Linked DNA regions of Homo sapiens. The protein of the gene in region 1 purifies or fractionates together with the protein of each later gene. This does not show direct contact. Each region holds a gene or a part of one and is shown in the gene's direction. Other genes may lie near its edges. The genes, in order: SPICE1, NXPE3, CEP120, PKP1, IPO5 and SERPINB8.

Region 1 (5,654 bases):
GAGCAATATGTGAGGATTCTAGTTTTTCCATATTTTTGTCAGTGCTTGTTGTTGTCCGTCTTTTTGATTATAGCCATCCTAGTCGGTGTGAGGTGGTATCTTGATTGGCATTTCCCTAATGACTAATTATGTTGAACATCTTTTCATGTGTTTATTAGCTGTCTATAGTATCTTCCTTGGAGGAATGTCTATTCAAGTCCTATGCCCATTTTTAAATCGGATTTTTTAAATTGTCGAGTTGTAAAATTTCTTTATATAGTCTGGATTCAAGTCCTTTATCAGATAGAGGATTTGCAGATACTTTCTCCCATTCTATTGGTTGTCTTCATTTTCTTGATTGTGCCTTCGAAGCACAAAAATTCTTAATTTTGATTACGTCCAATTTATTTTTTTCTTTGGTTGCTTGTGCTTTTTGTGTCATTTCTAAGAAACCATTGCTTAACCCACGGCTCACGAAGATTTACTCTTATGTTTTCTTCTAAGAATTTTGTAGTTTTAGCTCTTATATTTAAATCCATGAATCAATTTAATTTTTGAATATGGTGTGAGGTAGGAGTCCAACTTCATTCTTTTTCATATGCGTATCCAGTTGTCCCAGCACCATCTGTTGAAAAGACTATTCTTTCCCCGTTGAATTGTCTTGGCACCCATGTTGAAAAACTGACCATAAATGTAAGGGTTTGTTTTAGACTCTTTGTTCTATTATATTCTGTATCTTTTTAAATGGTACTTATGGCTCTGCTACTTACTAATTGTGTGACCTTCATGGTTGGTTAACTTTTGTCTCTCAGTTTTCTCGTTTGTAAAATGAGGAATAAATAGTAAGTACCTCATGGGGTTATTGTGAGGATTCAAGAAAATAATGTTTAAAGAGCTTAGAATAGCATCTGGCTTATAGTAAGCACACGGTATCTGTTAGCTGATGCCATCATTACCACCGTGGCTATCATCATCATTACCATCATAAAACTTAAATGTTATTTTCTAACTTGTATGTGACTTGTTTTCTTTGGCTGAAATTGTAAATGCTGAAATTAGATACCATGTTTAAGGAGTGAATGTTCTTGTTAAGAGAGAGTACAGAGTGCAAGGAAGATTGAGGGCAAACTCTTAAGAAATACTTGTATTTAGACATTTTTATTATAGTAGACAATGATTTTTTTTTAAAAAAAAGTACTTAAGGAAAATACTAGAGTCCTTGTTTTAGACTAATTGGGAGTAAGGGGGTCAGCTGGAAAGTCCTGTAATTATTTAGGTAGGTTAAAAGTGTCTGCAATAGTAGTCATGTATATGTATTGCTTTTTAAAAGTCATATATATGTATTGTAAAATCCTGGTGTTCGGGGACTATGGGTCTTTTTCTAATTTGGTGTAATGTGTAGTCTAGTGTGCTTAGCATTGCTGTTTAAACAGTGGCAAACTAATGTTGGCAATTTAAAAATTCTAGTTTAAAATCAATAATTATTAATTTGTTTATCAGCAATAGAAAAAAATCAATAATTAGCACCATTTAGCATTATGTGACAGATATATTAGAAGTGATATCATACCTCATTTGTTCTCTAAAGTTTAGCTACTTTTATTTTCAAGTAAGCCCATATGTACCTGGTAGTGATTTTGAGTGTTAGAGTGCTTAAAAAAGAACTCCAACTCTCTTTTGCCCTTTCTTCCCTTCACCTTACATTCATATTGTTAGCTTGTGACTGGGCTATTTTCTACTAATTGTAAATTTGTGTAACTGATGACAAAGCTTATGACGAATGTCTTAGTTCTCGGCTTTAGGCCATAATTTCTGCATTCCTAGAGTTCTTTTTTAATCAAATATATAAGTTATTGACTTGAGACCTCTTTTATTATAATTATCAGTACCAACATTTATTAGTTGTAAAATAAAAGAACTAAGTATTTTGATAGGCTGTTCCTTTCATCATGCTTAAATTTTTCTTCTGGCATTTTAAAATTTGTTTTTTTTTTCAGGTGTCTTCCCCCACTCTGGTGATGCTTATTGTTTTTTCTTGTATTTTAAAAATTTGATGTGATTATTATTCCTAGATGTCATTTGTCAGAGTGAACCGCTGTGGTCCCCGAGTTGGTGTAAGAAAGACACCGAAAGTAAAGAAGAAGAAAACTTCAGTGAAACAAGAATGGGATGTGAGTATAGGTGGGATAGTAAATAATGTAACATTACTCTGGAGAAATGGACACAGTGATATGGCCCTAGTCATGCAAGATGGTGTTCTGAATGGGGCTCATCACGTAATAGGGTGGAATAGGTTTCTGGGCATGTGATATTCTAGGTCTTGGAGGGAAAAGCAGAATCCTTTGGGGGAGGTTTTTAGAATACACACATCCAGGCTGTAACCTCTATATCCTCTGAAGAATTGGAATCCTAAGGGGATGGGGAGCATATTTTAAAAAACGTCTTTTCACTTTGACTCTGAGAACTCACTGCATAAAGGCAACTCTAGCTCACTGGTGTCAATGAAGTCTGTGAATTTTTCGGTACCTTTTTTAGGTTTGCTCAGAGCAACCAGTGATATCATAACCATGTGAGTGCCAGTTTTGGCTGAAAAAAATAGGTGACCTTTGCTCTCTTATCCCATGAATTGCTCAATTCCAGAGGTTGATCGGTTTCAGAACAAATGTTCTCTTGTGGTATAAGACAAGGCTGAAGTACCTGTAACATGTGATGTATGGCTCCTAACCTGAATATTGCCTGGTGTTACCAAGGGGATTTATATCTTTTTTTTAAGAGACAGGGTCATGTCCTGTCACCCAGGCTGGAGTGATGTGATGCCATCATAGCTCACTGCAGCCTTAAACTCCTGGACTCCAGCAATCCTCCTGCCTTAGCCTCCTGAGTAGCTAGGACCAGAGGCATGCACCACCACCCCTGGCTAACTTAAAAAAAATATTTTTTGTAGAGACAGGTCCTTGCTGTGTTGCCCAGGTTGGTCTTAAACTCCTAGCCTCAAGCGATCCTCGTGCCTTCGCTTCCCAAAGTGCTGGGATTATAGGCGAGCCATTGCACCCAGCTAGATTTCTCTTTTGTGACCTGATACTTTGGTTTGGACCATGAGACTTTAGGTGTCTTTACTTTCCATTGTGAAGAGTAACTAGTTAGGGATTAGTTTGGATCTCAGGGATTCTTTTGGACTTGGAATCTTCTTGTTTGCAACCTACCATGTTAGCCAGATATCCTGGGCAAACTGACAGCCTTTGAAGTGGGGCAGCGGGACTTCTCTGTGTTTAGATTGTTTTGTTGCTGTCTGATTGGCTATAAAATTTTAATAACAAGGATGTGACTCTAAGGTAAGGAAACTGATAAATCGGAAAAAAAAAATATGTGATAACATATTTTCCCCTTCAGAGTGGTTACTTTGAGAAGTTTAGTACAGTTGACCTTTGAACAACATGAGTTTGAGCTGCACGGGTTCATTTACGCATGAATTTTTTTTCAATAAATACAGTTGGCTGTATCCTGGGGTTCCACCTCTACAACGAAAGGTGGATTGAAAATACAGTGTTTTCAGGATGTAAAACCCAGATATGGAGAGCCAATTAGGTGGGATTTGAGTATGTGTGGATTTTGGTATATGTGGGTGTCCTGGATACTGTGGGATGACTGCATTTATTCCAATATGCCACTATTGCTTAAAACTTAATTGAAATCTATCATTTGAAATTGCATTAAGAACCTTCCTCATTTTATCTGCAGTGCTGGAAAAATCTTTTGTTTTTTGAAGGTAGACTGAACTTGGAAAATAGTCATAAGTCATTTGGAGTAAATGGTAAATGATGGAGAAGAGATCAAACTGATTATTACTGTCTTGATAAAAATAGTGAAACATTTTCTGAAATGGCTTGTAGATTAGATTTAAATGGAATGTCAAAAGAAAATGGTTTTAAGCAATGGTTTTAGTATTGATGGAATTATTATTTTCTTCCATGAGAACAAATTTCAAGCCTATCACTTACTTGTATGCCTGAGTTTTTAAATGCCTATTAAAAACAATTCTCATGATCCTGTAGTTGTACCTTGTACCTTTCTTTTCCTTTTCCCTTTTTTTTTTTTTTTTTTTTTTTGAGACAAGGTCTTGCTATGTTGCCCAGGCTGGCCTCAGACTCCTGGGCTCATGATGAGATCTTCCTGCCTCGGCCTCCTGAACCTCCTGGGTAGCTGAGACTACAAGCGCACACCACCATGCCTGGCTCTTGTACCTTTCTAAATCATTGTAAAAGTAATAACAGTTTTCATACAGAAAAGCCTTGAGCCAAATATAAATCATGGCCAAAAAGTTTAGTCTTTGATCAGAAGCCATTTTTGACTGTTCGTATTCCTCGTCACTTAGAAGTAAAACTAACTTGTTTTATTTCCTGCCTTACCAAATCTGTGTAGCAAAATGGCTGAAGTTGCTTTGGAAAGGGCCAAGTTACAGGGTTGCTACTTAGAGCTGTGCAGCCTGTGTACCACACAATTTCAAGGGGTGCTATTTACACGGACTCTGATATTAATGGTAACTTATGGAGTTGTGCAGGGTGGTAGCCCTGCCATGATAGTTTAGTGCCTTTTAATTTAACTGACTGTTTTTACATTTTATGAAATTATGCATTGCCCTCAAATTTCATCTTCCATTGTAGTAGCATCTATGCTTAAGATGTTTGCAGACACAAATTGAACCTCTCTATAGTGATCACACTTTCTTTTTTTTTTTTTTTTTTTTTTAGATAGAAACTCGCTTTGTTGCTGAGGCTGGAGTGCAGTGGCACAATCTTGGCTCACTGCAGACTCCACCTCCTAGGTTCAAGTGATTCTCCTGCCTCAGCCTCCTGAGTAGCTGGAATTACAGGTGCCCGCCACCAGGTCTGGCTAATTTTTGTATTTTTAGTAGAGATGGAGTTTTGCCATGTTGGCCTGGCTGTTCTCGAACTCCTGAGCTCAGGTGGTCCACCCACCTCAGCCTCCCAAAGTGCTGGGATTACAGGCATGAGCCACTGTACCCAGCCAGTGATCTCACTTTCTTTTAGGAACCTTTAGCGTTACGTTGTGGAATCCTGGGATTCCATAGACTACAGTGTGAAAACTAAAACTTTAGTTAAACTTACTCATTTTGAATATATACTACCATTTATTCATATATCATATATTCATTTTGAGTATTTTCATTGTTTTACTATAGTGTATGACTGCTTGGTGAATACAGTACTTATTTTCTGTAAGACATCTAAAATTAGTCTGTTATTTTCTATAAATAGGACACCTAAAACTAATATGTGTTCATATCTAAATTGAGAATACTGGTTCCTAGAAAGAAAGAATTTTTGGTCCTAGGATTTTGAAACCATTTTAGCCATTAAAATCCAATAAATGTGTATATTTTATAAGAAAACTTTTTTTTTTTTTTAAAGAAAGGCCACCTTTTTTTACAGAATACCGTGACTGATCTAACCGTTCATCGGGCAACTCCCGAAGATCTGGTGAGTTTAATATCAAAACTTAAGTCATTTATTCAGTGTTTTATTTGGTATTTGACTTGTAACCTTTAGAATAGAAACTATAGGCACTTCCTGGAAGTTGTTCAGTTATGTTTAATCTTGTTTATGTCTATATAAAATCAAAACGCCTATCTTCTGGACTTCCTGATTTGAGCTAGG
Region 2 (5,654 bases), about 12 Mb from region 1:
ACTCTTGAGCTCAAACGATCCCGATCTGTCCACCTCTGCCTCCCAAAGTGCTAGGATTACAGGCGTGAGCCACTGTGCCCAGCCCAGTTTTAATTTATATTTATTTATTTATTTGTTAGAGACAAGGTCTTGCTCTGTTGCTCTGGCTGGAGTTCCATGGTGTGATCATAGCTCACTACAACCTGGAGCTCCTGGGTTCAGTGATCTTCCCAGCTCAGCCTTCCGTGTAGCTAGGACTACAGGCATATGCCACCACGCTTGGCTAACTTTAAAAAAAAATTCTTGTAGAGATGGGGGTCTTGCTATGTTTCCCAGGTTGGTCTTGAACTCCTGGCCTCAAGCAGTTCTTCTGCTTCAGCCTCCCGAAGTGTTGGAATTACAGGCATGAGCCACTGCACCTGATCTACTACTGTTAACATAATGAAAGATGAGGCCTCTGCTTCATTCTCCTTCCACAATTTGTAAAATTAATTTTATTTCTATATATAACATTAAATAATGTATCTAGTCCTTTTATTTCCCCAACAGCATAATATATCTTAACTTCCTGCTCTAAGTGATGAAGAAAGCCCTACTCATTCTTATTTATTTATTTGTTATTATTTTTTTGAGATGGAGTCTCATTCTGTCGCCCAGCCTGGAGTGCAGTGGCGCGATCTTGGCTCACTGCAACCTCTGCCTCCTGGGTTCAAGCAGTTCTCTCCCTCAGCCTTCCGAGTAGTTGGGATTACAGGCGCCTGCCACCACACTCAGCTAATTTTTGTATTTTTAGTAGAGATGGGGTTTCAGCATGTTGGCCAGGCTGGTCTTGAACTCCTGACCTTGTGATCCATCTGCCTCGGCCTCCCAAAGTGCTGGGATTACAGGTGTGAGCCACCGCATCTGGCCTACTTCATTCTTTTATATTTGATTTCCACTAGTTATAATATTACTTTTGCATCATTAGGTGCATTCTTTATGGATTGTATCCTTCAAGGAATTGGTCCATTTCATCTGGGTTATCAAATTTATGGGCATAGAATTGTTCATAATATTCCTTTATTCCTTTAATGTCCATGGGATCTGTAGTGATGGCTTCTCTTTCATTTCTGATATTAATAATTTGTGTCCTCCCTCTTTTTTTCTTAGCCTGGGTAGAGGGCTTATCAATTTTATCAATCTTTTAAAAAACCAGCTTTGGGTTTCATTGATTTTTCTTTATTGATTTCCTGTTTTCAAGTTCATTGATTTCTGCTATCATGTTTATTATTTTTCTTCTGCTTATTTTGGATATTGTTTGCTCTTCTTTTTCTAGTTTGCTAAGATGTAAGGTTAAATTACTGATTTTAGGTTGTTTTTCTTTCCTAAAATATGTATAGTACTATGAATTTCCCTCTAAGCACTTCTCTTGCTTCATTCTATAGTGTTTAATGAATTATATTTTCACCTTCACCTAGTTAACATATTTTTAAATTTCTCATGAGATTTTGTATGTTACCCATTTGTATACCATTTTGGGATTTTTCCAGCTCTCTTTCTATTATTGATTTCTAGTTTAATTTCATTATGGCTTAAGAGAAGACACTGTATGATTTTTATTTTAAAAAATTTTTAAGGTGTATTTTATGGCCCAAAATGTGGTCCGTTTTGGTGAATGTTCCATGTGAGCTTGATATGAAGTAGTTTACAGATGTCAACTATATCCAGTTTATTGATGGTGCTGTTGAATTCAACTATGTCCTTACCGATTTTCTGCCTGCTGGATCTGTGTATTTCTGATAGAGGATTGTTGAAGTTTCAGACTATAATGTAGATTCATCTATTTCTCCATTAGTTTTTGCCTCACATGTTTTGATACTCATTGGTTAGGTACATACATGTTAAGGGTTGTTTTTTTTTTTGGAGAATTGACTCCTTTATTATTATGTAATGACCCTCTTTATCTTTGCTAACCTTCCTTGCTTTGAAATCTGCTCTGTCTGAAATTAATATAACTACTACTGGTTTCTTTGGATTAGTGTTAGCATGGTATATCTTTCTCCATTCCTTTACTTTTTTCTTGGTGTTTCTCCATCTTAGGTTGGACTGGGTGGCTCGAGTGGGCTGGAGTTGGATATTTCCCTTCTCTCAAGTTGGTTAGGCTCTGATAAAACTCCAATAGGCTAGGTTCTGATAAAGTGGTTTCTCTTGAGGGGCAGCTTTGTTAAGAACAACACAGTGCTCTGCATACTTCAAAATGGGTCCTTTTCCCTTTCTCTTCCCGGAAGCCCAAGGGGATTTTTCTTTGATATTCACTGTGAGAATCTGATTGAGCTCCTGGAGCTAAAACTCACAGAAGTGTGGGGAGCCCTCTGAATTTATGCCAAAATACAGAGACCTATTATAGTGGTAATTTCTGTTGTTTGTGTCTTCTTCTTCAGTACTTGGACCATGAGACTGTTTCAGCCACTTTCATCGACAGCAGTGGACAGTTTGTTTCCTCCCAGGTGACAGGAATTAGCCGAAATCCCTACTGTGGCTATGATCAGCAGACCCTGTCCAGCCAGGAGCGCATGGAGGAGGACTCCTTGCTGGCTGCCTTGCACCGGCAGGTTCCTGATGTGGGCCCAGTCCCCTTTGTGAAGAGCACTGACCCTTCTTCCAGCTACTTTGTCATCTTGAACTCTGCTGCCTTCTTTAAGGTGGGAAGCCAGCTTGAGGTGCTGGTTCATGTGCAGGATTTTCAAAGAAAGCCCAAGAAGTATGGTGGAGACTACCTGCAGGCCAGAATTCACTCCCTCAAGCTGCAGGCTGGGGCTGTGGGCAGGGTGGTGGATTACCAGAATGGGTTTTACAAGGTTTTCTTTACTTTGCTATGGCCAGGCAAAGTTAAAGTATCCGTATCTCTGGTCCACCCCAGTGAAGGGATCAGAGTTCTTCAGCGCTTACAGGAAGATAAACCAGACAGGGTCTATTTCAAGAGTCTCTTCCGTTCAGGAAGAATTTCTGAAACTACTGAGTGCAACGTGTGTCTTCCTGGGAATCTGCCCCTGTGTAACTTTACAGACCTCTACACTGGGGAGCCCTGGTTCTGCTTCAAACCAAAGAAGCTCCCTTGCAGCAGCAGAATTACCCATTTCAAAGGTGGATACCTGAAAGGTCTCCTAACCGCTGCAGAGAGTGCTTTCTTCCAGAGGTATGTACTGCTTTTTCTTGGGGATGATTTGAAGAGTTCTTTTCCACTGTCCTTGTCCCATTTAGGAGACTTTCTGGTATTCGGTATGTGTTTCTTACCTCTCTCTCAACTTGGCCCAATACAGAAGAGGTAGTGAATAAAAAAAAAAACATAGATTTGTATTTTTCATTAGTGTTTTAAAAATGAAGCTTAATGCTTATCTGAGTCCAAATTAAAGACCTTTTACCCTTGAATTTTTGTTCTTTACCCTCATATCTGTGTTTTCCTTTAGAACCACATAGCATGTTTACACAGTAGCTGTGTAAGTAAAATCCCTTATTCACAGAACAGATAGAAGTTATCTAAGGGTCAGATGTGGTGACTCATGCTTGTAATCCCAGCACTTTGGGAGGCTGAAACGGGAGGATCGCTTGAGCCCAGGAGTTTGAGACCAGCCTGGGCAACATAGCAAGACCCCATCTATTTTATGTAAAGAAAAAAATAATCCAAGAACAGGGCTGGTAGGGCTGGTAGTCAGGCTGGTGTTTTATCTTTGTATCTAATGAACTGAAACTTTAAAAAGTAACATAATAACAGTTTTTAAAATCATTTGAACCTACTGATTAAAAAACTATGAATATGGCAACATTGCTGGGTTGACTTAATAAGCATAGGAAGTCAGGAATACCACAGAAAACTATATTTTTTAAGCTAAATAGTTGTTGAAATTATTGCAGTATTGTGTTCAAATTTCTATTTCAAATGTAAGCTTAAAATATTTTCAGCATGATGAGAAATACATGGAATAATGTGCAGAAAGGAATATGGAACCAGTATGAATTAAAATTTGTGTTTTCTTCAACATTCCATAACATCACTAAGAAATAAAAAATTATAAAAGCTACATGGTTAAAAAGTACCATGCTGGCCAAGCGTGGTGGCTCATGACTGTAGTCCCAGCACTTTGGGAGGCTGAGGTGGGAGGAAGGCTGGAGCCCAGGAGTTTGAGGTTGCAGTGAGCTGTGATCACAATTGCACTACAGCCTGGACAACAGAGTGAGACCCTGTCTCAACAAAAAGTACAATTGTTTGAAAGAATGTATACATGTTTTTTACTTTTTAGTGAAATATATTGTTTTTAAACATTCCTTGGTAGAGAGAATTTTTTTGTTGGATAAAAGGGAGGTATTTTTGTTAAGGATATCTGGGCACCCTAAAAATTTCATACTTTATGTCCACTCATTACCGTATGGGAGAAAAGTTGCTACCATAAAGTATGTGGTTTGTAGGAGCTCCTAAAATAAAACTCTTCAGTTTTCCACCCTGAAGTCAGCTTTTGGTCATACCAGATTATGTACATATGTAGTGGGTTCATGCCATACTTTTAGAAGGCCAGCAGAGGGAGCACTACTCAATGTACAGTGTTTACTGTACTGCTGAGAAGACTAGTATTTTCTATGGCTCAGTACAAAATGAAAACAAAATTAAATTTCACAACTCCTCAAAACAAAACCAAAACAAAATTTTTCATTTTATTCGTGGGTTCAGGTTTCAGACATGCTATTTATTAGTGACTGAGCAGATTATTTTATTTCTGTGTACTTTTTTGCCTATATATGAAGACTACTCAATTACCCTATTTTAGAGGGTTGGTTTGTTTGTTTGTTTTGCAACAGGGTCTCACTTTGTCATCCAGGCTGGAGTGCAGTGGCATGATTGCAGCTTGCTGCAGCCTCAACGTCCCGGGTTCGACGGATTCTCCCACCTCAGCCTCCCGAGTAGTTCGGACTACAGGTGTGCGCCACCACACCCAGCTAATTTTTGTATGTTTTGTAGAAATGTGGTTTCACTATGTTGCCCAGGCTGGTCTTGAACCCCTGGGCTCAAGTAGTCCTCCTGCTTTGTCCTCCCAAAGGGCTGGAATTACAGATGTGAGCCACCATACCCCGTTAGAGTTGTGTTTTTAGATTTTTAAGTTATTATGGATACATCCTAGTTGCACATATTTTTGAGGTAGATGTGATATTTTGATACAAGCATATAATATGTAATGATCAAATCAGGGTAATTGGAGTATCCATTGCCTAAAGCATTTATCATTTCTTTGTGTTGGGAACATTCCAATTCCACTGTCATAATTGTTTTGAAATATATAGTAAATGATTGTTAACTATAATTGCCCTATAGAGTTACGTTGTCAGTCTACTTAGTGGCCTAGCAAAGAGGAAGAAACATAGTAATTTACGCAAATTCCAGGTGGAAAATAGAGAAAGTTTAGAGAACTAAATTAGTGTAAAACTTAAAAGTATTTCTGACTATAAATTCTACCATTAAAAACAAAAAAGCACCCGTGAACCCACAAGGATAAAATAATGTGTTTGTCCCTGCCCTTCCTTGCATATCCTGGGTGAGGCTGGTTGATGGTACATTGTTGTAGAATAATTGCGGAATTTTATTTACCTGGAAGTTTGCTGAGAAAACAATGTCTGAGGTGGTGTAAGTTTTTGGAAAGCAAACATTT
Region 3 (5,654 bases), on another chromosome or scaffold:
TTTTGATCCTGAAGTTAAGAGAGAGTCTAAGAATGCATATTTATCTGATTTAATAAAATTTTTCCATCCATTGCAGTTATAGTTAGTAGTGTAAATAGTAGTGGATTAGGAGTTAGATGTCTTTGCTGTAAGTTACATCTCTGTCACTGAGTGGCTGTGTGACTTCGGCCACTCACTAAGTATCTCTGATCTCTAATAGGTTGGACTAGATATCTGTCTTTTTAAGTTTTAGCTTTCTGTTATTTTAAATATGCCTAAAATAACCAAAATTACTGTAAAAAGGTGATGTCATTATATCTCAGTAAGTCTCATATACAGCCCTTCAAATGTTAAGTTATGTGCCTCTTGGAAATAAGTTAGTGCCTTCTAGGCTGCAGTCATGTATATTTCTCTATTGGTTCTGTACGTTTTCTATATGTATTGAGAGTAAGCTCTTTTTTCACACAATTCTAGAATGGAAATTAAAACCTGGGTTATTTTTGTGTGAGTTACTTTTAAGATACTTATACCTCAATTCATATGTTCATGAGACAAAATAGCCCAATTCCTGCTTAAAGGTAAATGAGATGATAGCCTTAAACTATCTGTACAATTTAAGAGAAACTGTTAGCAAGTGTGATTATTTTGTTTTATTTTATGTTCATTTCAGCCAGTTCTTCTGTACCTGCTTCACTGGCCCAGCTAGTGACTACATCCAATGCTTCAGAAGTAGCTTCAGGACAGAAGATTGCTGTACCAGCAACATCACATCATTTTTGCTTTTCAATAGACTTAAGGAGTATACATGCCTTGGAGATTGGTTTTCCAATCAACTGTATATTAAGGTGTGATTTGATTTTGTTTCAAAGTATTATTTTCTGAAGAGAAAGGACTTTCCTGTGTTTGGGGAATTGCAGAGAGAAATGTCACCAAAGAAGTTATAACATTTGTTAAATCAGTGGACTAAAAGGGGGTAAGGCTATATCCTAATGATTTTGAATTCAAACAAGGGTAGCATAGTAGTAGGAGAGGTAACTGTCTTATTATTCTGATATAATAATTGTAGGCATTTATAATAACTTATTCTAAGTAATATAATACATGTATGTATTTTGATAAACATACATAATATGCCATATAAAGTACAGTGCCTCTTAAACTTGAAAAGTGCTTTTTTTCTGGAAAAAGTATTACTGGTCAAAATAATAATAATGGTCAAAAAAAAGTAATAATAATACTAGTCAAAGTATTACTGGTCAAAAAGGTAGTGTATTATCTGATTTTTCTATAAAACTGTATTATAATGGGAGCTCATATTCCTAATACCTCCATTTCATAGCTATGAATCTAAACACCATACTTAATCAGCTGTAAGTGGAATGTGTCTACATTGTTCTATATTAAGAATTTTATATAATATATATGTCAGTTAAGTAGTTTTACACAATAATTTGTTTTTAATGATGTTACATTTTTATAGTCTTTTGTGCCCGAGATATAAATTAAATATAATACAATAATGTATTTAGTTTGGGGTAGTTAGCATCTCCTCATAAATTTTTTGGGAACAAGCATTAGCATTTGCAAAAGTTGAGGAAATAAATTGTTACAGTCCACTTAACACTCTTCATAGAATTCATTTGATACGGACTAATAGTTCGGTCTTTGAATCATTTTAAGGCACTTTAAAAATGCTGGCCACTTAACTTTTTCTGTTGATAAATTTTCATACCATGCTCTGTATTGGTATGAAATTGTAGTTTGCAGCTGTGTCATGGAATTGGTTAGGTAACACTGGTATTTGAAAAGTTTCTTATCTGCATGACTTCCTTTATTTATTTTTCTTTTAATCACTAAATCCTGTAGTGTGGTGGTAAGCATAGGGAGCTGAAACTCTAGGGCATTTAACTTTCCTCGGAAATGACATGATTTAAATGGATATATAATTATATAGGAATTGGGTGACTACATAGAATTCTTCTTGTTGGAAAGCAGTTTTTACTAATAGTGTTTAAATTTTAGTTCTCATATATGAATAACAAGATACAGGATTAAATTTAAATGAACATTATAATATCTTTATATTTGGCTTTAAATACAAATTAAGTTCAGCAGTAGTCAGGCATTCTTCCATTTAATCTAGCATGGCTTTGTGATGAAAGGGAGAAACAGTGTTGTTATGTCACTCTCTTGATTCATCCATAATACATTCGAATTGTTTGCATCCTTGCAAGATTACCATAATTACCAGATTACCATGAATGCATCCTTTTGGAGTTGACTAAGGGCTTTTTATCCCATAAAAAATCAGGATACTATTGTATAAAATAAACCAGGTTTACAAATAAATTTAGGAAGCATTTCTTGAATATTTATATATGGCAGAAACTGCCTGTGTCCCTGGGAGTGCAGAGATAAAAAAGGTAGGACATGTGCCGTCAAGGAACTTCTTACACAGATGACAGATTGCTATGTCTACCATGTTTCTATTAAAAAGTTGTATTTGCTCATAATATTCATATTATACTTTTTTCTAAAAAACAGACTGAATGTCATCTGTAAACCATATCATTAAGGCTTTTTTTTTTTTTTTTTTTTTTAAATTCTAGGTACTCATATCCATTCTTTGGAAGTGCAGCTCCTATTATGACTAATCCTCCTGTAGAAGTTCGGAAAAACATGGAAGTTTTTCTTCCCCAGTCTTACTGTGCATTTGATTTTGCAACTATGCCTCATCAGCTGCAAGACACCTTCTTAAGGTAATGCATACAGTGTATGTATGATATTAATTAATTTAAGTCAATTCTTGAAAATTTGTATTTTATTAAAAAGGAATTCTTATAGGTTTAAATCCATAGCAGTTTATGCATTTGAGGATCAAGAAACAAATTTACTAATTATGTGTATGACATTTGTGCATCTGCTACAGGGTTTTGCATGGTTTATTATAAAGGCTCTTTTTTGATTTTCCTATCTTATTTACCTGAATTTAGATATTTTAACTTTGTTAAAACAAACTATATGTAATGAGGGGCCTTTGAAAAGTGGTCTTGCCTTTTCCTGATATAATGTGGGAAGATAAAAAGCTAAGAACTAAATATTTACTTTTTATTGTTGATTCACTGAATGAAAAAATTTGCTTTTTCTGTTTTTTTAAACCTATAACTAGAGATGTTAATCTGACTATCTGAAATGGATTCATGAAAAAATCTGAGATCTGCGAAACACCTTTTACTTTCTCAGAGTATCACAATTCAAATTTATACATTATTTTAAAAAGAATGAAGGGTAACTTAAATCTAACCATTTGTGGGAATTACAGCATTTGAAGGTTTTTATTGCATAGAAAGTGGTACAAAAAATATAATAGTAGGCCTGGCATGGTGACTTACACCTGTAATCCCAGCACTTTGGGAGGCCAACTTGAGCAGATTGCTTTGAGCCCAGGAGTTTTAGACTAGCCTGAGCAAAATGGTGAAACCCTGTCTCTACAAAAAATACAAAAATTAGCCAGCACCTGCAGTCCCAGCTACTTAGGGGGCTAAAACGGGAGGATCACTTGAGCCCAGGAGGTTGAGGCTGTAGTGAGTTGTGATTATGCCATTGCACAGCAGCCTGAGTGGCAGACCAAGACCCTGTCTCAAAAAAAAAAAAAAACAGGTATAGTCGTGAATTAAAGATAGGGATACATTATGAGAAGTGCATTATTAGATAATTCTATTGTTGTGTGAACATTGTAGAATGTACTTAAACAAACTTAGATGGTATAGCCTACTGTGCACCTAAGCTGGGTGGAATAGCCTATTGCTTCTAGACTGCGAACCTGCACAGCATGTGACTGTACTGAATACTGTAGGCAGTTGGACAAAGGTAAGTATTTGTGTATCTAAACAGAAAAGATACAGTAAAAATATGATATAATTTTATGGGACCATCATTGTATGTGAGGTTCATCATTGATGGAAACATCATTTCATATTTGGTGCCTGTGAAATTTAGCATTCAGTCTAACAATTGTGTTAGACGACATTCCAGGTAACAAAAAACATCTTTGACTCCATTGAGGGAATTCAAAGAATTTAGTTCAGAAAAGACTTTAGGTCAGAGTTGATAGGTATGAACACATGTTTCTCTCTTCCTTAGGATTCCATTACTGGTTGAACTATGGCACAAGGATAAAATGAGTAAAGATTTACTTCTGGGAATTGCGAGAATCCAGCTTTCTAACATCTTGTCTTCAGAAAAAACTCGTTTTTTAGGTTCTAATGGTGAACAGTGTTGGCGTCAAACTTACAGTGAAAGTGTGCCTGTTATAGCAGCACAAGGGTAATGCATTTCACAGAATTGGTATTTGCTTTTCTTTTCAATTCATGGAATGATTTTGATTAGTCAGCCACCACTTCACCCTTCCATAACCTCTTTTTTCTGATCCACCACTTCACCCTTTCATAACCTCCTTTTTCTGATCTTCTCTGACCTGTGGCAGCTATACCCCACTTTGCCCTTTAGCTTTCTGATACTGATTTCACCTCACAGAAGTCAAGAGTCTGTGTTACCATGGTATTGTAATATTCAGATGGCTAATTATTTTCCTTCCTCTCTCTAGCTTGAGAATTTTAAATGCAGGATCTATTTTTTTATTTTGTAATTTGAGGTTAAACTTTATAATGTATTTTATATTATTTTGCACTGGGAATGGCTAAGACTGTTTTTCCACTTAAAATATTTTACTCCTACCCCAAATCAAAAGTCTGAGGACATTATAGATATTTGGCAGTCAGAGGCAGTTTTTAAAATAATTATTGGTTTTTTGCCCTGAACTTCATTGCCACAAAGAAAAACTTGCGTTTTTTTAACATATTTTAAATACAGTAAAATATTTGTTGAATTATCCTTTCAAAATTAACAATAAAAATTTAAAATTTAACTTAACATTATATATCATATGCCCTTTATCATTAAAGATAAGACTAAAAAAAAGAGAAACAAGGCTCAGTGAAATTTTAGCTCTAAAAGTATTGAAATGTCTTTCCTTATTCCTCACCATTCATGGCCATTTTGTTTCAACTCCTATTATTGAAGAATCTTTCTTAAAAATTAGCATTTTTTTGTCGTAAGTAGAAGATAATAAAATCACTAATAATTGAAGCTATTTTAATGCTGCCCGTTTGTTATGAATATTAACTTTTATTGCCATACTTTGTAGACAGAAAGTTTTAGGAGATTTACTTAAGTGAGAACCTTAGATACTCTCAGGAGTTTCTGTCAGATACAGTAGTGCTTCATTTAACTTTATTCATTTCTTCTGAAATCTGTGAGATTAGAAGAAGAAAATACAAAAGTTGGTTAATTAAGAGTTCTAATTGTGTGAGAACCATTCATTCAAGTTTTGTTTGACCAGAGTATATTTGATTTAGACAAAACCATGGTTTTGTATTACTAGCATTTTATTTTCTTCTAATATTTTATCTTGTTCTCATTTGGTTAATGACAAATGCTGCATGCAGTTGTATGATACAAAGAGGTGCTCATTATGCTCATACTAACATATAATTATCCTAGAAGCATTGCTTATGTGCCAATTAGGCCTAGAGGCATTGCTTATGTCTAGTAAAATATTTATGAGTATGTACATCCCAGGAAAAGTAGAAAAAAGAATTCAGAATAACCAATAT
Region 4 (2,492 bases), on another chromosome or scaffold:
TCCCAAGAGCTGTTCTGGGAATGGCTGGTCTTCATATTCCCAGTGGAGAGGGGAACAAGTGGGGCTGGGCATATACCTATTCCGGCTTCTAGTGGGATGGAGTTGGGGTATAGAAATTAACCAGGAAGATGTTTCCACCAAGCCTGCTGTGAGTCAATTGAGGGAGTGTTTGGGGTCCCAGGAGACTTGGACGGGGGGAGTTTGGGTAGACTAGGAAAGGAAAGTGCCATATCAGGGTACCGGTACCGGCAAGCTCACATCTCAGCCAGGGGCCATGCCCCACTTCCCCTGACCCCAGCTGTCTTGTCTCCACTCTGTGAAACCCACAGGGGATGTGATAAACAGGGCTATTAGGGGTATCAGCCACGTCGAGCCCCCAGACTCTGTGCACTTCAGACCAGCAGCAGCAGGAGGGCTCCCGAGGGCCTTATGAGAAAACCTGTGTGGACATCCCTTGGTGTACACTAAGACAGAGCAGAGCCCAGCGCTCCCAAGCCTTCCTCCTTCCAGCTTCTACCTCCATGCTAGCATTGCTGGTGTTAGAGAGGAATTAACTTCCTGGTCTGTGCCCTTCTCTAGAAGAATATAAGATGCTCCTCCTCCTCACCCCTTCTCAGCCTCCTCCCAAGTCTTCCTCTTCTGCACCACCCCCGAGTCCAAACCCACCTCTTGCCCCAGCATTCAGGCTGGAAAACACTGATGTGGACTCAGTATGATAACTGAGATGGGGGACGCCAGACATGTGAGGACGCTGTCCTCCGAGAGGTGTCCCCGGCTGTTAGCCAGCTGTGCTGTGGTGCTGTGGGTCTGTCATACCCTCCCTTGCTTCTGTTCACACTGGGAGGCCCACTCCTGGCTCACCTCTCCCTCTCAGGGACCCACGTGGGAGCCTGGATCCCTGGACTGTCCTGGGCATAGGTTTCAGGGGCCTCCTTTGTTGTCATCAGAACCCAGAGGAATTCTTCTCCTAAAAAATACGTATGGCATACCAATCTGTGCGGGGCAGTGTCCTAAGCACTTAGACTACATCAGGGAAGAACACAGACCACATCCCTGTCCTCATGCGGCTTATGTTTTCTGGAGGAAAGTGGAGACACAAGTCCTTGGCTTTAGGGCTCCCCCGGCTGGGGGCTGTGCAGTCCGGTCAGGGCGGGAGGGGAAATGCACCGCTGCATGTGAACCTTACCAGCCCAGGCGGATGCCCCTTCCCCTTAGCACTACCCTGGCCTCCTGCATCCCCTCGCCTCATGTTCCTCCCACCTTCAAAGAATGAAGAGCCCCATGGGCCCAGCCCCTGCCCTGGGAACCAGGCAGCCTTCCAGACCTCAGGGGCTGAGGCAGACTATTAGGGCAGGGCTGACTTTGGTGACACTGCCCATTCCCTCTCAGGCCAGCTCAGGTCACCCGGGCCTCTGACCCAGGCCTGTCACTTTGAGAGGGGCAAAACTGAGAGGGGCTTTTCCTAGAGAAAGAGAACAAGGAGCTTGCCAGGCTTCATGTAGCCGACACACGTCTCAGGATTTTAAGTCCACATTGGCCTCACACTACCAGGGCCAATGCCCAAAATAAGGAGTTCCAATTTGGGGCCAAATGAGGAAGGACACAGACTCTGCCCTGGGATCTCCTGTGCTAGCGGCCAATGACAAATCCAGTCATTGGCCACCAGCCACCTCTGCAGTGGGGACCACACTAGCAGCCCTGACTCCACACTCCTCCTGGGGACCCAAGAGGCAGTGTTGCTGTCTGCATGTCCACCTTGGAATCTGGCTGAACTGGCTGGCAGGACCAAGACTGCGGCTGGGGTGGGCAGGGAAGGGAAGCCGGGGGCTGCTGTGAGGGATCTTGGAGCTTCCCTGTAGCCCACCTTCCCCTTGCTTCATGTTTGTAGAGGAACCTTGTGCCGGCCAGGCCCAGTTTCCTTGTGTGATACACTAATGTATTTGCTTTTTTTGGAAATAGAGAAAATCAATAAATTGCTAGTGTTTCTTTGAACTTTTTCGAGGAGTGGATTCTTTGGGGTGCTGTTGAGGGATGAAGGGGCTACTCATTTCCTTCCATGATCTCCTCTTACCCTGTACCAGGCAAGGACTGAGAATGCCACCCGGGGGCACAGGGACAGCGCTATCCATGGACACCTGCTCTACAGCAGCACATCGAGCCTCACCGCAGCTCCATGACACTAGGATTGCTGTCCTGATTTTTAAAATAAGTAAAGCGAGACTTAGGGAAGGAACAAATACCCCCAGGGTCACACAGCTTGTAAATGTCCCCAAGCCTGAACCCATCCAGGTGGGGCATCTGTAGGAAAGAGAAATTCAAAGATGAAGGTCAAGGAGTTGGTGTTTATTTAGTTTTATTTATTTACTTTTTGAGACAGGGGTTTTGCTCTGTTGCCCAGGCTGGAGTACAGGGATGAGATCATGGCTCAAAGAGGGCTCAACCTCCCAGGCTCAAGCAATCCTCCCAGCTAAGGCTCCCAACTATGGGTCTCA
Region 5 (4,715 bases), on another chromosome or scaffold:
CACATAGACCATGGCCAGACAGACAATGGGGATTATGCATCTTTGATGATGTCATAGAACACTGTAGTCCAGCCTCATTTAAATACGCAGAATATTTCTTAAGACCAATGCTCCAATATGTATGTGACAACAGCCCAGAAGTCAGGCAAGCAGCTGCATATGGCCTGGGAGTCATGGCACAGTACGGTGGAGATAATTATCGCCCTTTTTGTACAGGTACGTTTGCTTATTCCGTTACGTGCATTTCATTCCAGACATCCTGTGAATCCCTACTTTACTCTCTTTACCACACTCCCAAACATTATTTGCCTATTTCTGCTGTAGTCTGTTTTCAGACATCTCATCTGTAGCATTTAGGATTTTAGATGATAAAAAGATGATTTATTCTCATAGAAATAGAATCAAAGACATCCCCTGCCCCCAGCCTTCCAGGGTGCATTTCTCTTTGCGTTTTGGCAATATACAACAGCCTTAGAATAGGACTTTTTTTTTTTTCTTTAATTGAGGCCCAGGCTGGAGTGCAGTGGCATGATCTCGGCTCACTGCAACCTCCGCCTCCCGGGTTCGAGCAATTCTGCTTCAGCCTCCTGAGTAGCTGGGACTACAGGCGCATGCCACCACGCCTGGCTAATTTTTTCTATTTTTAGTAGAGATGGGGTTTCACCATGTTAGCCAGGATGGTCTCGATCTCCTGACCTCGTGATCGGCCCACCTCAGCCTCCCAAAGTGCTGAGATTACAGGCGTGAGCCACCACACCTGGCAGAATAGGACTTTTAAAACTTACTGGGGAATATAGTTAGGCAGCTTTTAAAGTTTAAGGACCCTCGGGTGATGTGATGAGTACTGTAAATCTGGAGGCCACTAATCTCTCTGGGTCTCTAAGTTAGTAGAGGGCTAGTGCTCCTGTCCATGCTGGGGCAGTCCCCCCTCTGTTGCCATTCTGTAATGACATAGCCAAGAAGACAACACTTCCCATACACTTTAACATTTCTTTACCATAATCAATATCTGAACCAAATACAAAAATACATATATTCATTTGCATGAAAATGTGAGGTTTTAGCTGAACTTCTTTCAAATGCTTATTTTAGAAGCACTTCCCCTGCTGGTAAGAGTTATTCAGTCTGCGGATTCTAAGACCAAAGAAAATGTCAATGCTACAGAGAACTGCATCTCAGCAGTAGGGAAAATCATGAAGTTCAAGCCTGACTGTGTAAACGTTGAAGAGGTCCTTCCACACTGGTTGTCTTGGCTTCCACTACATGAAGATAAAGAAGAAGCTGTTCAGACTTTCAATTATCTGTGTGACCTGATTGAAAGGTAGGAAAGCAGACTGTGACCTTATTTCCTTCTCCTCCACAGTGCTTCCTGGTTTTTCTTGCCTAACATCAGTCTTTTAAGGTTTAACCACATGATCTCTGCACAGTCCTCAGTTGTATAGGTTTATAATAGTGCTGTCTTTATAAATCATATTAAGAAACCATATCACAGTTAACATTGCCCTTATAATAAGGTCTAATTTTGAGTTATTCTTTATGAAATTAGATTCAACAGATGAGGCACTTTAATTATTTATTTCTTTGTTTTTAAATTTTTTTGGTAGCGACAAGGTCTTAACTGTTTTGCACAGGCAGGTCGCAAACTCTTGGCCTCAAGAGATCCTCCCACCTCAGCCTCCCAAAGTGCTGGGATTACAGGCATGAGCCACCAAACCCAGCCTAAGGGAATGTTGTTTAGTGTCTGTTTTCTAAGTCCAAGTTCCCCCCAAATATCAGTCAGATCTAAGCTCTGTCGCTATTATTATTTTTAGGTTATGAATAAATTCAAGGGCTACAACCACTGCCACTATTGTAGCAATAGGCCAACAGGTATATTCTCCATACTTGTTTAAGTTCAGGTTCACATAAGAAATGGGTTTGAGTCTTCCACTGACCATATCATTAAGGAATGTAACAGCCATCCTGCAGACTACATACTCCTGACCTGCTCCTACATCTGAAATGACCAGGTCTTAATCATGCTATTTGATCATCTTCCTTGGAAACGACTACTCTGAAATTCTCTTAGTGACAAAGACTAGAATTCTTAAATTCGCTATCAGGTTTTTTCCCATTAAACTTGCCTGAGTTTATTTCCCAGTTTATTCTTGAAATGTTTATATAATTTTTTTGAACTTCAGAGTTATTTTAGAAGCTATTTTGTAGTAGCAAAATAAAACTTGTGTTAAACTTATTTTTAATAATACAAAACATTTTTTTTAACACATCACAAATTATTTATAAGGTATTTAGAGCATTCTGTTGTTTGGCCCTTAAAACAATCCTGAGAGATGAGCCCAGTATTTTTTTTTTCTAATTTATGTAGAAAGAAACTAAAGAGTTCATATATAAGATTGGCTGGTTTTCTTCCTACTGAATTTAAAAGGCCATTGATTTTAGTGAACACATAATCATATTTCTCCTTATAAATTTCACTTACTAAGGTTTTCTTCTCATTTGTCAGTAATCATCCAATTGTTCTTGGCCCAAACAATACCAATCTGCCCAAAATATTTAGTATAATTGCGGAAGGAGAAATGCACGAGGCAATTAAACATGAAGATCCTTGTGCCAAACGTCTGGCCAATGTCGTTCGCCAAGTACAGGTAAGCTGATTTGGTTGAATTGGGGAGGGGGAGATAAAACCTTTTTTTCTTTGTAGTCCTCTATGAGAAGAAACTAGAAATCTAATGAGCTAAGGAATTTTATTTTTATATTTTCATAGTCTCTTGTCTCCAAGCCTCAAATGGATTATACTTAATGTAATCCATCCGTATGTACTTATTATTTATTAGAATTAAAACCTTCATCTTAGGACATTTTGAGCTTACCAGTTGGTGCTTAACACAAGCTTATGTGTAGTTTTTCTGCCTATCTTAAGAAAAAAAAACAAGATTTAATAATAACTTGTCATCTGCCAAAAAACTTTATATGATTTTTACTTCCTATATTCATGTGGTATATGGGTTACTTTAAGATGTTACCTGCTTAGTGTAGCTTTTTCAGTGCAAAAATGAAGAAAACTTACTGGAAATGAAATGAACTTTAAAAAAATGAACAGATTTCTTGCTTTTACAATGATACTCATCAAAATAATGTACCTAGGGAGAAGGTATTTTGCCATGATTACAGTTTACCTATGATGATGATTAAAATCCTTCCAAATGAGCATTTCGTCCTAAGTCTGTGAAAATGTTTCTTTCCCTAGACTTCTGGAGGACTGTGGACTGAGTGCATAGCACAGCTCAGTCCTGAGCAGCAGGCCGCCATTCAGGAGCTCCTGAACTCTGCGTGAAGGGCCTTAATGTCACCCACCAGAAAACTAACTCCAAATAAACGCTTACCCTTTCCTTTAGGTTTCTTTGTTTTGTTTTTGAGCAAAAGAGATCGGTAGTGTTGTGTGTAGGCCATTCTTCTGGAGAGCCACAAGCAGGAAGAGCAGCGCTGTGTTGCAGAATGGAGTTTCCATGGATTTCTACCAGACCACTGAAGGAGTTCCTGGAAGCCCTGCGGTAGCTAGCACTGAAGACTATTTTTCTATTGGTATAACCCGCCCACCTGAAGGGGAAAGGGAAATCAAATTAATTTTTCTCGTTAGACATAAGGAAATTTAAGGAAAAACAGCTTTAAGAACAGTTACTCAGCGTAGATGTGTGTTCACACAAATTGCTCTGCATTCAGTGTTCATTGTGAATTGGGAGTGTGAGTCTTTCTGTAGGGTAGAAAGAAGCCTCCTACCCAGCAAACCAGTAGACCCAAAAGTTGAAAAAAACTGATGACAGACAACAAGCATGAAGATGGCATATTTGATGTCACTTTGGTTCTTTTTCCCAGAAGGCTTATACAGTGACTCAGTCGGGAAGCTTTCCAGCTTCCAGCCCTTGAATGTGAAGTGTCATTGGCATGTCTGGCAGTAGTCTCTCATTCACTCCTCAATAAACAACATTGAATACAAAAGAGGCTTGTGTAAAAACTCAGTACTGTCTGGCTTGGATTCATTTCATGTTTTTAATATAAGAATGATCTAATATTTTTTTAAAGTAATAGCTATCAGTAATAGCTGAGTGTTTTTTCCCCTAATATTTTCCTTGTGCAATTCAGACTTAAGCATCGAGTTTTTACCATCTTCCACTTTAAGCTAAGTTATGATACCTATTCCATTCACAATTGGTGTTCTTTTTAAGGTTTGCAAATTTCAGCCAATTTTGTAGCTAAGATTGTTCTGATCAGCTCAAAAAGATTTGGCTTAGTGTTTTCATTGCAAATTATAATTGCTGTAGAGCCACACACAACTTTTGAACTTTTAATTATAAGTGTTATGGCTAAAGTTATTTACTGAAAATTTCAGTAAAATGTGTGAATGTTTCTTTATGTATTAACCTCATAGCAGTAAATGACTTGCTGTTGTTTAATTTTTCTAAGGCATCTTAATAGACTTCTGTTGAAAACTTCAGTGTTAACATTTTTATAGTTTGTACTAAATTTAACCGTGATATAAAAATGAATTTTATGCATAGATCAGAATTTTAAATTAAAGGTTTTTTCTTTAAATGATTTGTATTACTTTATTAAAACTAAATCTGAAATGGAATAGAAAATAGAATGGATTACATACAGATGGTTTCCTTGTTAGCAGATGCCCTTCAAATATATTTTACGTTTGCAGCACAACACCA
Region 6 (5,654 bases), on another chromosome or scaffold:
CTACATTTGCTCTCAGAGTGTGGCCTTTTCTGAATTTGTTCCCTATTCTGGAGGTGCAGCGACATGGAGCCTGCAGTGTTCCCTGCCCAGACCACATTCCATCCCACCAGAAATATTTCTGCCAGTTCTTTACTTCAGTAGGAAAAAGGGGGAGTCATACTTTAAAGCATCCTAAATACCTAACAAGTAATTTCGATACTTGTAAACGGTGGAGGAATTAAGTCACTTATTTCAAGGGCCAACCTAGCACTCATTATTGCATCCATTCCATCCTATGTCGCAACCACTGTGTGTCCAGCAGAAGTAATGCCCCTGATTCTACTGAAAGCCAATACAATAATTACCATGGGAAGGGAAGAGCCTTTTGTGTTTTCATACATCATCTGCCTAGTGGTCTTTCCAGTTGTTCAACAGTACTGTCACCTGAGGAACCTAGAAGTTTCTCCACACCTTCCCCCCACTGCCCTATACCTGTCACTGCTCTTCCAGGGCTGCTTATGCCCTTCCTTCCCTTAGGCTGACCACCCACATTTCCCCCAGAATATTAGAGCTGAAGGGGACCTTGGAGATGACCTTGTTACCCTCTCATTGGACAACTCAATTTGGGCCCCTCTATTCTACCCCCCTAATTCCTTTGCCCCATTCACCCCCTTCAGAGAGGCTGCCTTCTCCCATTGACAGATCTGTGTTCTCTCATCCTTTGGAAAGCTTTCCTTGTCTGATGAGGTTTGAATATATGCATAGAGCAATGATCCTCAACCAGGGGTAGCTTTGCCCTCCAGGTGCCATTGGATAATGGCTGAAGACAATCTTGGTTGTCAAAATGGGAAGAAATGCTGCTGGCTAAACATCCTACAATGCACAAGACAGCCCCCATAACAAAGAATTATCTGGCTTAAAATGACAATAGCGGTGAGGCTTGGATATGATAGTGCCAAGGTTGACTGCCCCATAGTCAGAATCAAGACTCTGGGGTGATGTTCTCAACTCAGCCACTTGTCACCTGTGTGCACTCAGCAAAAGTCTGGCAAATGCTCTGGTCCTGAATTTCTACATCCATAAATTGAGGGCAAAATGATAGTTGCCCTTCCTACTTCAAGATTTTTTTCTTAAGCACAAATGTTACACTGTGTATGCCACACTGCTAAACACCATCGCCTAATTCATCAGGGGCCCAGAAAGACAGAACTCCAGCCTGTCTCTCAACCAAGCCTCTGCCTTATGTGTCAAAGGGATTTTTGTAAAAGAATGCTTATTTCCCCACAAATTGCAATAAACTCTCATATTCTTTATAGGTAAGATTTCAGAGGTACTGGATGCTGGGACAGTCGATCCCCTGACAAAGCTGGTCCTTGTGAATGCCATTTATTTCAAGGGAAAGTGGAATGAGCAATTTGACAGAAAGTACACAAGGGGAATGCTCTTTAAAACCAACGAGGTAGGGAAAGATTTTTCAGATATACTGCTACTTTCTTAAAGTAATATTACAGGAAATATTCTCTTGGAAAAATGAATAATTTATTTGACATGATCTTGATTTTAATCTATTTCTGAATTATATTATATTATTTTATTTTCTTTGAGACAGGGTCTCTTTTTGTCACCCAGGCTGGAGTGCAGTGGTGTAATCTCAGCTCACTGCAGCCTCGACCTCCCAGGCTCAAATGATTCCCCAACCTTAGCTTCCCAAGTAGCTGTGACTACAGGTGCACACCACCAGGCCTGGCTAATTTTTGTATTTTTTGTAGAGATAAGGTTTTGTCATATTGCCCAGGTTGGTCTCAAACTCCTGGCCTCAAGTGATACACCTGCCTTATCCTCCCAAAGTTCTGGAATTACAGGCAGGAGCCACTGTGCCTGGCTTCTTTTCTGAATGAATTTAATGCCTCCTGTGTATCTTTAATGGCGGAAGGAAGAGAGAAACAAAAATAATTTTGGTATTGATAGTTTTGTTTTTCCATCTTTGATCAAATCTACCTTCCATCTCTGGTCATATGATTTGGATTGGAGGAGAATTTCTTCTAAGCCTTGGAATTATGTTTGCATGATGCTATTACTCTCTGTATTTAGTTAGATACCTTTTTGCAATATCAGTGGCAACTATGCCTATTTATTGCCTTAAAAGTCAAAGTTATACAATCCTGAGCACAAGAAAAAAAAGTTAGCAGATGTAAAGCCTAACTTTACCTTCCCTTTTGAATATTAAAATGGCTGGTATCAATAGTTGTTAGCTTGGGATTTGACATCCATCAAATATGATACTCTCATATTGCACAAAGATATGAAAGTTAAAAATATATTTGATGCAGGCTTTAAAAACAGCAGACCTTACACATCTCTTCAAGGTCCCCTTCCTAAGAAAGCCAAGGCCATAAAACCAATTCTACAACAAGGCAACTTTCCAGAGTTTGGACCGTACATCTTTTCTAACCAGATCCTTCAGCCCAAGGGCCTGAATATTTATCTTAACTTCGATAAAGAATTTTTAGTTGGAAGCTTCCATGAGAAAGCTTCTCTGTGAATGTTCTCAAAAAAGCAAACACAGCTTCTTCCAAGGATAATGTCAATTTTTGTGTCCTTCTCCATTTACCAAACTGTTTTTTTTTTCTCACCTGGTAATATTTGATCTGCTGGAACAATAGCTTGTTCTATTCAATACTAAGATGTACTAATGAAGATTTTATATCTATCAGCATAAATGTGCAGAAACAGTAATTATACACACCTAGAGTTTCTGTGAGTTAGATATATCCTATTTTTAGTAAATTATACCCACTTTTCAGTAATCGAACTTTAATTTTTCCGTTAGGAAAAAAAGACAGTGCAGATGATGTTTAAGGAAGCTAAGTTTAAAATGGGGTATGCGGATGAGGTACACACCCAGGTCCTGGAGCTGCCCTATGTGGAAGAGGAGCTGAGCATGGTCATTCTGCTTCCCGATGACAACACGGACCTCGCCGTGGTAAGCTCCAGGCAATGAGCCTGAGTATCTGTGGAGTCCAGCTGAGCTCATTTCTTTATGTTCATCTACCAATTGGCATTTGAGGAGTTTCCAGTTGGGGTTATTACAGGCAGTGCTGGGTGAACATCATTGTGTGTCTTTTGATGAACATGTTCATGCATTTCTGTTGAGTGTATACATATATGAGTGGACAAGTTTTGATGAAGCTAAGAAGAGAGAGTTCTAAATATATTATTATTTGGAATATTATTCTTTATTCTGCATGGAAGGTCTATTTGAAAGCCCAATGATTATTGCACAAAAGTCCTGGAAGAAGGGTAGGGATCAATCTTGGCAGTGATTCTCAAACACTAATGCACATATATGATTCTAGTGATCTTGTTAAAGTGCAGATTTTGATTCAATGGAGTGTGGCCTGAGATGTTGCATTTGTAACAAGATTCCAAGTGATACAGATGCTTGGAACCACACTATGAATAGCAAAAGTCTAAAGTACAGGTGGGAAATTTACCTTATACAAGAGGAGAGAAAAGTCTTACTGTGACAGAAAAGGAACAGAGTCCAGGAAGGGAAGTGGTAAACTTGCAAGGTAGGAGGTGCAAGACTAATAGTGCACTTGTAAACCAGCTCTGGGAGGTGGGAGAAGCCTTCATTTATAAAGTTTGCTGATTCTCATGACATGGTAAATACTCCCACCATGGCCGACTTTAGTCTACTGAGGGTTTAACAATTGATAGGGGTCAGCTCTGGCACACCAATGCACAGGATGTTGAGGGTGGGCTGCTTGATTTTCCTGGCTTCCCTTTGGAATCAGAAAGCTACTGCCCTAAGTCAGGGATGACATCTGTTGTGGCCACTTATGAGAAAATTAGGAGAGTCTAGAAATAGAGTCAAAATCAAAACAATGCTCGTTGGAGAGGAGTACCCACCTGGGCTCCAGTTGTTAAAGGGAAGGGGAGATGCTAGTGGAAGGCCTTTCTCCCTTTTTTCTTTCTACCTTATTGATAAATAGAAAGAGTGATGGATCTTGAAGAATTTGAAGCTAACTCCAGGACAGGCAGAGGACAAACAAGGATGCTGATGAAGTCTTCTTGCATTCCCCATTTCTCGTCTCATGCTCCCTTCTCATGCCTCCCTTCATCTTCAGATGAAACACAATTCCCTCTCTTTTACTCTGAGTTGCCCTCTGATTTAACCCTGAATAGTCCCCTCATTAGACTCAGAAGCAGAGTTCTGAGCCATGCTCTTTGTCTTTTGTCAAACAATCTCTCCCACTCACAGTAGTATGTATTGCATGAAGATTAATGTAATGAATTGGTTAGAATTTTCTAAACTGTTAAAAAATGTTTTTAACATTTGAAAGGAGTTAGGTACAAATTGTTTTTATTAAAAATTTCTGCCTGTCTCAGGTGTTTACTAGCTCTTTTACACTTGTCTCCATAAAACTGTGAAAAGATGAAAATTTGGGAGAAAATCTTGGTGTGTTTATAAAAGAAAATATCTGTAGATTTTCTTGGACCAGAACTCACCATCTAATTGCATGTCATTGGGGGAGGGGTAATAAATGGGTGTGTGGGTATCAGGCTATTGTCATCTAAATTTTAAGGTTTGAGTCTTTCTTATCCTAGGTGGAAAAAGCACTTACATATGAGAAATTCAAAGCCTGGACAAATTCAGAAAAGTTGACAAAAAGTAAGGTTCAAGTTTTCCTTCCCAGATTAAAGCTGGAGGAGAGTTATGACTTGGAGCCTTTCCTTCGAAGATTAGGAATGATCGATGCTTTTGACGAAGCCAAGGCAGACTTTTCTGGAATGTCAACTGAGAAGAATGTGCCTCTGTCCAAGGTTGCCCACAAGTGCTTCGTGGAGGTCAATGAGGAAGGCACAGAGGCTGCCGCAGCCACTGCTGTGGTCAGGAATTCCCGGTGCAGCAGAATGGAGCCAAGATTCTGTGCAGACCACCCTTTTCTTTTCTTCATCAGGCACCACAAAACCAACTGCATCTTGTTCTGTGGCAGGTTCTCTTCTCCGTAAAGAGGAGCAATTGCTGTACATACCCTCCTTTCCTTCTACCTATCTTGCCTTAATTAACATTCCCTGTGACCTAGTTGGTGCAGTGGCTTGAATGCCAAAATAAAGCGTGTGCACTGGATAGTGTGTGAAAGTCTTTGCTGAAAGTTCCAGAGCCATTGAGAATAACTGAGGCCGCAGATGCATGAAATTTGGGCCTGGGAAGGCTATGCTGGTTTTGGAGTGTTTGGGGTGCCTGCCATTGCCTCTGCCTTCACCTAAGTCTGTGCCCATTGTTTCAGGGGATCTTATGGAGCATCTCAGGGCTTCAGGAGCCAGCCCTCTTCCATCCGCCCGGCTCTGCCCACCACCACTGCCAGGCTGAACAGGGGACTAGTGCCCAGGTGACACTGCACACAAAGCCAAGGGCAAACCCTATAGAGTAAAGCTGCAGCCACCCTGTGTCTCATGTGCAGCTGAAATAGTGATCTGCTTCTGTCACTGTCACATAGACAGCCCTGCATGCCCCCTGTCTCACACAGTTTGTAATGAAGACAGCTCCTTCTCATCTTTCCATAAGCCTGAGATACAAGTTCAGGGACTCAGCAATGCACTTTAGGACTGAGCTAGGAGGCAAATATCTGAAGCTTGCTATGCTGTTCTTTCCATTCCTTTTCCCTCTG

The links.
Region 2: the proteins of SPICE1 (region 1) and NXPE3 purify together in Homo sapiens (co-immunoprecipitation; one large-scale study listed by IntAct). This does not show direct contact.
Region 3: the proteins of SPICE1 (region 1) and CEP120 purify together in Homo sapiens (affinity purification with mass spectrometry; 2 studies listed by BioGRID and IntAct, with this or other methods). This does not show direct contact.
Region 4: the proteins of SPICE1 (region 1) and PKP1 purify together in Homo sapiens (affinity purification with mass spectrometry; one large-scale study listed by BioGRID and IntAct). This does not show direct contact.
Region 5: the proteins of SPICE1 (region 1) and IPO5 purify together in Homo sapiens (affinity purification with mass spectrometry; one large-scale study listed by BioGRID and IntAct). This does not show direct contact.
Region 6: the proteins of SPICE1 (region 1) and SERPINB8 purify together in Homo sapiens (affinity purification with mass spectrometry; one large-scale study listed by BioGRID and IntAct). This does not show direct contact.

Annotation. Positions count from the first base shown.
Region 1 is NC_000003.12:113,503,003-113,508,656, reverse strand, and holds part of SPICE1 (spindle and centriole-associated protein 1), read left to right. Parts: intron 1-2,051; coding exon 2,052-2,150; intron 2,151-5,429; coding exon 5,430-5,477; intron 5,478-5,654.
Region 2 is NC_000003.12:101,798,836-101,804,489, forward strand, and holds part of NXPE3 (NXPE family member 3 isoform 1 precursor), read left to right. Parts: intron 1-2,399; coding exon 2,400-3,154; intron 3,155-5,654.
Region 3 is NC_000005.10:123,383,602-123,389,255, reverse strand, and holds part of CEP120 (centrosomal protein of 120 kDa), read left to right. Parts: intron 1-649; coding exon 650-824; exon of another isoform or gene 825-952; intron 953-2,588; coding exon 2,589-2,738; intron 2,739-4,122; coding exon 4,123-4,305; intron 4,306-5,654. UniProt on the Homo sapiens protein: Plays a role in the microtubule-dependent coupling of the nucleus and the centrosome.
Region 4 is NC_000001.11:201,330,998-201,333,489, forward strand, and holds the end of PKP1 (plakophilin-1), read left to right. Parts: 3' UTR 1-1,992; downstream 1,993-2,492. UniProt on the Homo sapiens protein: A component of desmosome cell-cell junctions which are required for positive regulation of cellular adhesion.
Region 5 is NC_000013.11:98,018,489-98,023,203, forward strand, and holds part of IPO5 (importin-5), read left to right. Parts: coding exon 1-216; intron 217-1,092; coding exon 1,093-1,321; intron 1,322-2,503; coding exon 2,504-2,645; intron 2,646-3,247; coding exon 3,248-3,334; 3' UTR 3,335-4,715. UniProt on the Homo sapiens protein: Functions in nuclear protein import as nuclear transport receptor. Serves as receptor for nuclear localization signals (NLS) in cargo substrates.
Region 6 is NC_000018.10:63,982,284-63,987,937, forward strand, and holds part of SERPINB8 (serpin B8), read left to right. Parts: intron 1-1,295; coding exon 1,296-1,438; intron 1,439-2,809; coding exon 2,810-2,962; intron 2,963-3,974; coding exon of another isoform or gene 3,975-3,983; exon of another isoform or gene 3,984-4,367; intron 4,368-4,590; coding exon 4,591-4,995; 3' UTR 4,996-5,654. UniProt on the Homo sapiens protein: Has an important role in epithelial desmosome-mediated cell-cell adhesion.